Homo sapiens: one gene and its partner. The protein of the gene in region 2 purifies or fractionates together with the protein of the main gene of each other region. This does not show direct contact. Each region holds a gene or a part of one and is shown on either strand. Other genes may lie near its edges. The genes, in order: TLR4 and TLR6.

The links.
Region 1: the proteins of TLR6 (region 2) and TLR4 purify together in Homo sapiens (co-immunoprecipitation; one study listed by IntAct). This does not show direct contact.

The regions. Positions count from the first base shown.
Region 1 is NC_000009.12:117,710,586-117,714,410, forward strand, and holds part of TLR4 (toll-like receptor 4 isoform A precursor), read left to right. Parts: intron 1-1,803; coding exon 1,804-3,825.
Region 2 is NC_000004.12:38,829,045-38,832,869, reverse strand, and holds part of TLR6 (toll-like receptor 6 precursor), read left to right. Parts: intron 1-3,332; 5' UTR 3,333-3,396; coding exon 3,397-3,825. UniProt on the Homo sapiens protein: Participates in the innate immune response to Gram-positive bacteria and fungi. Specifically recognizes diacylated and, to a lesser extent, triacylated lipopeptides.

The DNA of each region.
Region 1 (3,825 bases), on a different chromosome or scaffold from region 2:
CTTCTTGTTAACCCATAGGAGATTCTGAATTAGGGCAAGCACAAAAGATAGCACAATAGACATCCTTTGCCTTTTCGTACAGTGTTCACATACAGTAACTCAACTAGTCTTGTAAGAATGCTTTGTGATAGACCAGGCAGCCTTCTTTCCCCTATAGAAATATATATATATTTCTTTTTATAGGTGAGGAAACTGAAGCTTGAATAATTTAAATGACTTATATACATTATCATTGCTTGTTAGCCACAGACCAGAGATTTAAGTTCACATCTCCAGAATCCAACTTAAATGTTTTCTTTGTCTTAATACTCTACTTCTCTAAAGTGATTATCACCAATGTAATGATATAGAGACACAGCAAGACCCTTTCCTTCTCACCTAATGTATAGAGCAATGCAGAGATAGAATGATGGGCTATAACAATCATATAATTGAAAGAAAGAACTTCAAAAATAATCAAGTTCAGCTGTTTGATTTATAAATGTGATAACTAAAACCTAGAGAGGAAAAGAGGTACTCAAGATCACACAGTAGGAGAGGACTGCAGAAACACCAAACCCAAGCTCTTTTGTCCACTCTTCCAGCGTTCTTTCTACTATACTGCCTATCCTTTATCTAGTTACCAATAAATAACAAAAGCTTGGACCACAATGCTTTTATTGTCTAGGAAACTCCTGAAGAAGCTAAATAAAATGGGTGGGGAATATTGTAAATGTAATTCAGGCTGGATTAAGAAAGAACTTATTTGTACATTGTAACTGACAAGCACCTGCAATGCTGAAAGGAATTTTTCATTGGCTTGCTGTTTGCTGGCTGCATCAAAGCCCTGTCTCTAGGACATGTCTCTGAACATTGTGTGTAGCATGGCTTTCATTTCTTTTAGGATAAAATTCAAAACCCTTTATCTGGTTGGTAAACCTCTGCCTAATTGGGAACCTTCTTTCTCCACAACTCCATATTGTACACTCCAATTTCATCTCTGTTCTCCAACCATGGAAGCTATTTGTCATGATTCCTCCTTGTGTCATTTTTTTTCTGTCAACCTTGGGGCTTTTGTGTTTGCTGTTCACTTCACCTCCTTTTATTGTTAACTTCTACTCATCTTTCAATTTTCAACTTAAGTGTTCTCAGAGAAACCTACTTTGATTTTCTTGGTCCACAACGGTTCTCTGGATGTGAACTCTTATAGCACATAATTTTCACTTTTTTCCACAAAACTCGCTCCTATCACCTGTTACAAGCATTTACCTCTGATAACAAGAACTTTCAAATATCTAGCTGTCATGTAAGCACTTTTCATAAACATTAAGAGTATCTGTGACACTTATGTGTAATTTTTCGTATCTCTGAAATTGATATTTACCAGTCATTTATCTTGGCTACCAACTAACAACTATCCATATTATCTGTACCAATCAGATGTATAATCACAATTTTGTGTGACAGAAAATGGCTAAACTTGATCCAAGGCTATTACATGCTTTATCAACTGCACAATCTTTATATATGTCAATTATTGATCTTTAACTGATTTCCTTCTTATGGATTTTCTCCTCTGCTTATCATGTATGCCTAACATGACAAAAAAGAGCCTATCATTGCAGCCAGTATGATAATACTCAGTCTGTGGGGCTTCTTATTTGCTTATTCCATCATCATCTGTCCTGCTTGATGTCTTTGCCTATGCACAATCATATGACCCATCACATCTGTATGAAGAGCTGGATGACTAGGATTAATATTCTATTTTAGGTTCTTATTCAGCAGAAATATTAGATAATCAATGTCTTTTTATTCCTGTAGGTGTGAAATCCAGACAATTGAAGATGGGGCATATCAGAGCCTAAGCCACCTCTCTACCTTAATATTGACAGGAAACCCCATCCAGAGTTTAGCCCTGGGAGCCTTTTCTGGACTATCAAGTTTACAGAAGCTGGTGGCTGTGGAGACAAATCTAGCATCTCTAGAGAACTTCCCCATTGGACATCTCAAAACTTTGAAAGAACTTAATGTGGCTCACAATCTTATCCAATCTTTCAAATTACCTGAGTATTTTTCTAATCTGACCAATCTAGAGCACTTGGACCTTTCCAGCAACAAGATTCAAAGTATTTATTGCACAGACTTGCGGGTTCTACATCAAATGCCCCTACTCAATCTCTCTTTAGACCTGTCCCTGAACCCTATGAACTTTATCCAACCAGGTGCATTTAAAGAAATTAGGCTTCATAAGCTGACTTTAAGAAATAATTTTGATAGTTTAAATGTAATGAAAACTTGTATTCAAGGTCTGGCTGGTTTAGAAGTCCATCGTTTGGTTCTGGGAGAATTTAGAAATGAAGGAAACTTGGAAAAGTTTGACAAATCTGCTCTAGAGGGCCTGTGCAATTTGACCATTGAAGAATTCCGATTAGCATACTTAGACTACTACCTCGATGATATTATTGACTTATTTAATTGTTTGACAAATGTTTCTTCATTTTCCCTGGTGAGTGTGACTATTGAAAGGGTAAAAGACTTTTCTTATAATTTCGGATGGCAACATTTAGAATTAGTTAACTGTAAATTTGGACAGTTTCCCACATTGAAACTCAAATCTCTCAAAAGGCTTACTTTCACTTCCAACAAAGGTGGGAATGCTTTTTCAGAAGTTGATCTACCAAGCCTTGAGTTTCTAGATCTCAGTAGAAATGGCTTGAGTTTCAAAGGTTGCTGTTCTCAAAGTGATTTTGGGACAACCAGCCTAAAGTATTTAGATCTGAGCTTCAATGGTGTTATTACCATGAGTTCAAACTTCTTGGGCTTAGAACAACTAGAACATCTGGATTTCCAGCATTCCAATTTGAAACAAATGAGTGAGTTTTCAGTATTCCTATCACTCAGAAACCTCATTTACCTTGACATTTCTCATACTCACACCAGAGTTGCTTTCAATGGCATCTTCAATGGCTTGTCCAGTCTCGAAGTCTTGAAAATGGCTGGCAATTCTTTCCAGGAAAACTTCCTTCCAGATATCTTCACAGAGCTGAGAAACTTGACCTTCCTGGACCTCTCTCAGTGTCAACTGGAGCAGTTGTCTCCAACAGCATTTAACTCACTCTCCAGTCTTCAGGTACTAAATATGAGCCACAACAACTTCTTTTCATTGGATACGTTTCCTTATAAGTGTCTGAACTCCCTCCAGGTTCTTGATTACAGTCTCAATCACATAATGACTTCCAAAAAACAGGAACTACAGCATTTTCCAAGTAGTCTAGCTTTCTTAAATCTTACTCAGAATGACTTTGCTTGTACTTGTGAACACCAGAGTTTCCTGCAATGGATCAAGGACCAGAGGCAGCTCTTGGTGGAAGTTGAACGAATGGAATGTGCAACACCTTCAGATAAGCAGGGCATGCCTGTGCTGAGTTTGAATATCACCTGTCAGATGAATAAGACCATCATTGGTGTGTCGGTCCTCAGTGTGCTTGTAGTATCTGTTGTAGCAGTTCTGGTCTATAAGTTCTATTTTCACCTGATGCTTCTTGCTGGCTGCATAAAGTATGGTAGAGGTGAAAACATCTATGATGCCTTTGTTATCTACTCAAGCCAGGATGAGGACTGGGTAAGGAATGAGCTAGTAAAGAATTTAGAAGAAGGGGTGCCTCCATTTCAGCTCTGCCTTCACTACAGAGACTTTATTCCCGGTGTGGCCATTGCTGCCAACATCATCCATGAAGGTTTCCATAAAAGCCGAAAGGTGATTGTTGTGGTGTCCCAGCACTTCATCCAGAGCCGCTGGTGTATCTTTGAATATGAGATTGCTCAGACCTGGCAGTTTCTGAG
Region 2 (3,825 bases):
AGGCTCTGGGGAATGCACACTTTGACTCCCTTTGTCCCAGGGAAAGCCACTAGGTGCACTGTGCTTCCTGTTTCCTGGGATGCGGGGCATTGCATGGGCTAGAGTGCTGGGGACCTAGCTGCACTGCTGATCTTAGCTGGCATTACAATGCTGTAGCCCTCTAGGTGGACGTAGGAGAATATCAGTGGGGCTTCAGGGGTGTGGAGATTCAGGGTTGTTGGGCCCCAGAACAGGATGTGTATGGTGAGGGCTGGGCTCTTAAAAGAGCCTTATGCTGAAGCTGTTTGGGTCTCAGGGTATGGGGTATGTGGGACCCAATGTGAAGTCCCATTGTGGAACAATGTGATTGCATATATTCCAGACAGCCCCAGGGCATGTGAAGGCCAAGGAGCTAGCTCATGGCTAGGATTACAGGAGTCCATAGTGGAAACATTGACCTCTGAAGATCTCTCAGTTAAACTTTCCCTGGAATGGGAAGTTCCTCCTGGTTCTGAGCTAGTCCCAGCTGGGCTGGCTGCTTCACTTCCCTCTTCTCCCATGCCTCAGAGGTGCACTGTCACTTCTCCGCTGAATTCCAGTGTTCTCTCTTAGATGCTCATTCAATGTGTGATTATCTGCTCACTGTTTTGGTCCTTCTTTGCAGAGGGGGTGAGGGCTAGGTGCCTCTATTCAGCCATTTTAATGCTTCTCCGGCTCATTTTTTAATTGTTCAATAGTATTTTATTGTGTGAATGTACCAGTTTGTTAATATTTTTATCTATTGAGGGATATCTTGTTGCTTCCAATGTTTGACAGTTATGAATAAAGCTTCTATAAACATCCACATGGAGGCTTTTATGTGGACATAAATTTTCAGTTCTTTTGGTTAAATACCCAGGAATGTGATTTGCTGGATTGTGTGATAAGACTATGCTTAGTTTTATAAGAAACTGCATTCCATAGTGGCTGCACCATTTTGCATTCCCACAAACAGTGAAAGAGAGTTCTTGTTGCTCCACATCCTCACCAACATTTGATGTTGTTTTTGGATTTTACCCATTCTCATAAGTGTAATGTAATTTCATTGCTGTATTAATCTGCAAAACCATGATGAAATATGATGTCAAATAGCTATGTATATGTGTATTTGCTCTTTACATATCTTCTTTGGTGAGGTGTCTGTTTAGATTTTTGTGCCCATTTAAAAACTAGGTTGTTTGTTTTCTTATTGTGGAGCTTAAGAGTTCTTTGCATAGTTTGGATACAAGTCCCTATCATATATGGGTTTTGCAAATATCTTCTCTGAGTCTGTGGTTTGTCTTTTTCACTCTCTTGCAGTGTCTTTTGCAAAGCAAAAATTTTAATTTTAATGAAGTCCAACTTAACAGTGTTTTCTTTCTTGGATTATGTTTTTGATGCGTATCTCAAAAGTCATCACCAAATCCAAAGTCACCTAGATTTTCTCCTATGTTATCTTCTGGAAATTTTATAGTTTTGCATTATACATTTAGGTCTATGGTTAATTTTGAGCTGATTTTTGTGAAAACTGTAAGGTCTGCGTCTAAATTCTTTCTCTTCTTCTTCTTTTTTTTTTTTTGCATGTGGAGGTCTAATTGTTCCAGCACCATTTGTTGAAAAGACTATCCATTCTCCACTGAGTTGCCTTTGCTCGTTTGTCAAACAGCAGTTGATTATTTTTTTGTGGGTCTATTTCTAAGCTCTGTATTCTGGTCATTTGACCTATTTGTCTATTCTTTCACCAAAACCACACTGCCTTGATTGCTGTAGCTTTGTAGCAAGTCTCAATGTTAGGTGGTGTCAGTTATCTGGCTTTGTTCTTTTAATTTCTTTTTTTTTTTTTTCCTGTGAATGAACAATACTTTCTGTTTCTTTGCATGGCTAATTTTTTTAAACAAATAAATTAGAGATTCCTTTAATGCCAAGTTACACAATCAAAAAGATAACAATCTCTTTCCATTTGCTTTTTGCAAGGTTTGTGTTATTTCAGGGCAAAACGTAGAGCAAGTCCACTGGCAAATCTGGGGGCTAGTGATTATTTTGTTTTGATTTTTATTTTTTTAAATCAGACATTTTAAACACTACAATGAGGTAACTCTAGAAATCAAATTCTGTCCCCCTTTCCCAGAGGTGTTTTATTTATTTATTTATTTATTTTTTGACAGGGTCTCATTCTGTCACCCAGGCTGGAGTGCAGTGGTGTAATCACAGCTCATTGGAGCCTCGACTTCCTCGGCCCCAAACAATCCTCCCACTCAGCCTCCCAAGTAGCTGGGACTATAGGCACACGCCACCATGCCCAGCTAAGTTTTGTATTTTTTGTAGAGATGGAGTTTCACTATGTTGCGCAGGCTGGCTTTGAACTCCTGGACTCAAGCAATCCACCTGCCTTGCCCTCCCCAAGTTCTGGGACTATAGGCTTAAGCCACTGTGCCGGGCCTCCCTTTCCCAGGGTGTATTGTTGCTTCTTGTGGCTTATAGTTGCTTGTTTAATGACTTTTCTAAATAATTTTTATAAAGATTATTCTTTGTCATGTGTGGCTATTACATTTTCTGTCCAGTTAGCTTAGTGGTCAGCCAGTAACTTGAGATTTCTTTAAACATCTGGAGCAAAAACAAAAACCAAATAAACTAGCAAAAGCAAAAACAAAAACACCCCTGATCTTTGCAGGTTGGCTGTGTTGGATCACTTTCTCAATGCTTAGCCAGTCTATTCACAGCTCTGCTTTAGCCTTCACTTTCTGCATGCATGGAAGCTAAAGATGAGCCAGAGGTGAAGTTTAGGATTTTCTCAGGTCTCCTCTGAACATGCGTCCAGCCTTGGGCACGTGAGTGGACTTCTGGACTCCCTGGTATATACAGAGATTTCCTCAGCCTTTTTTCTCCCACATATCTTTCTCCATATATCTTTGCATATTTCCCAGACTTTTTGATGTGTCTGCTGCTTGCCCCCTCTGTTAGCCCTTGCTCAGGTGGCTGCAGCTAGTATGTTTGCCTTTAATTGTTTACAGCAAACACCAGCCAGAAGGCTGTTCCAGCCCTGAGAAAGTTCTAAGGTGTACAAAACAAAGGCAAGCCCCTGAGTGTGAATCCCTCAGGCAGCAACCAGACAGGTCAAAACACACAACCACAATTCTTTGATAACAAGGCCTATATTGCCCCTTCTGGCATGAGCAAGCTATATAACTGGTTATAAAAAGTATTACATTAAATTATGGGGACAGAAATGACTCTACTAGTGAATGAAGAAATCATTTAGATTTTATGGTTAGTAAGTGGAGGTTTGAGAGTAACCATCCGATCTTTATTAATCTTAGTGTATATTATATTTCTAGAATTTGGACTCATATCAAGATGCTCTGAAGAAGAACAACCCTTTAGGATAGCCACTGCAACATCATGACCAAAGACAAAGAACCTATTGTTAAAAGCTTCCATTTTGTTTGCCTTATGATCATAATAGTTGGAACCAGAATCCAGTTCTCCGACGGAAATGAATTTGCAGTAGACAAGTCAAAAAGAGGTCTTATTCATGTTCCAAAAGACCTACCGCTGAAAACCAAAGTCTTAGATATGTCTCAGAACTACATCGCTGAGCTTCAGGTCTCTGACATGAGCTTTCTATCAGAGTTGACAGTTTTGAGACTTTCCCATAACAGAATCCAGCTACTTGATTTAAGTGTTTTCAAGTTCAACCAGGATTTAGAATATTTGGATTTATCTCATAATCAGTTGCAAAAGATATCCTGCCATCCTATTGTGAGTTTCAGGCATTTAGATCTCTCATTCAATGATTTCAAGGCCCTGCCCATCTGTAAGGAATTTGGC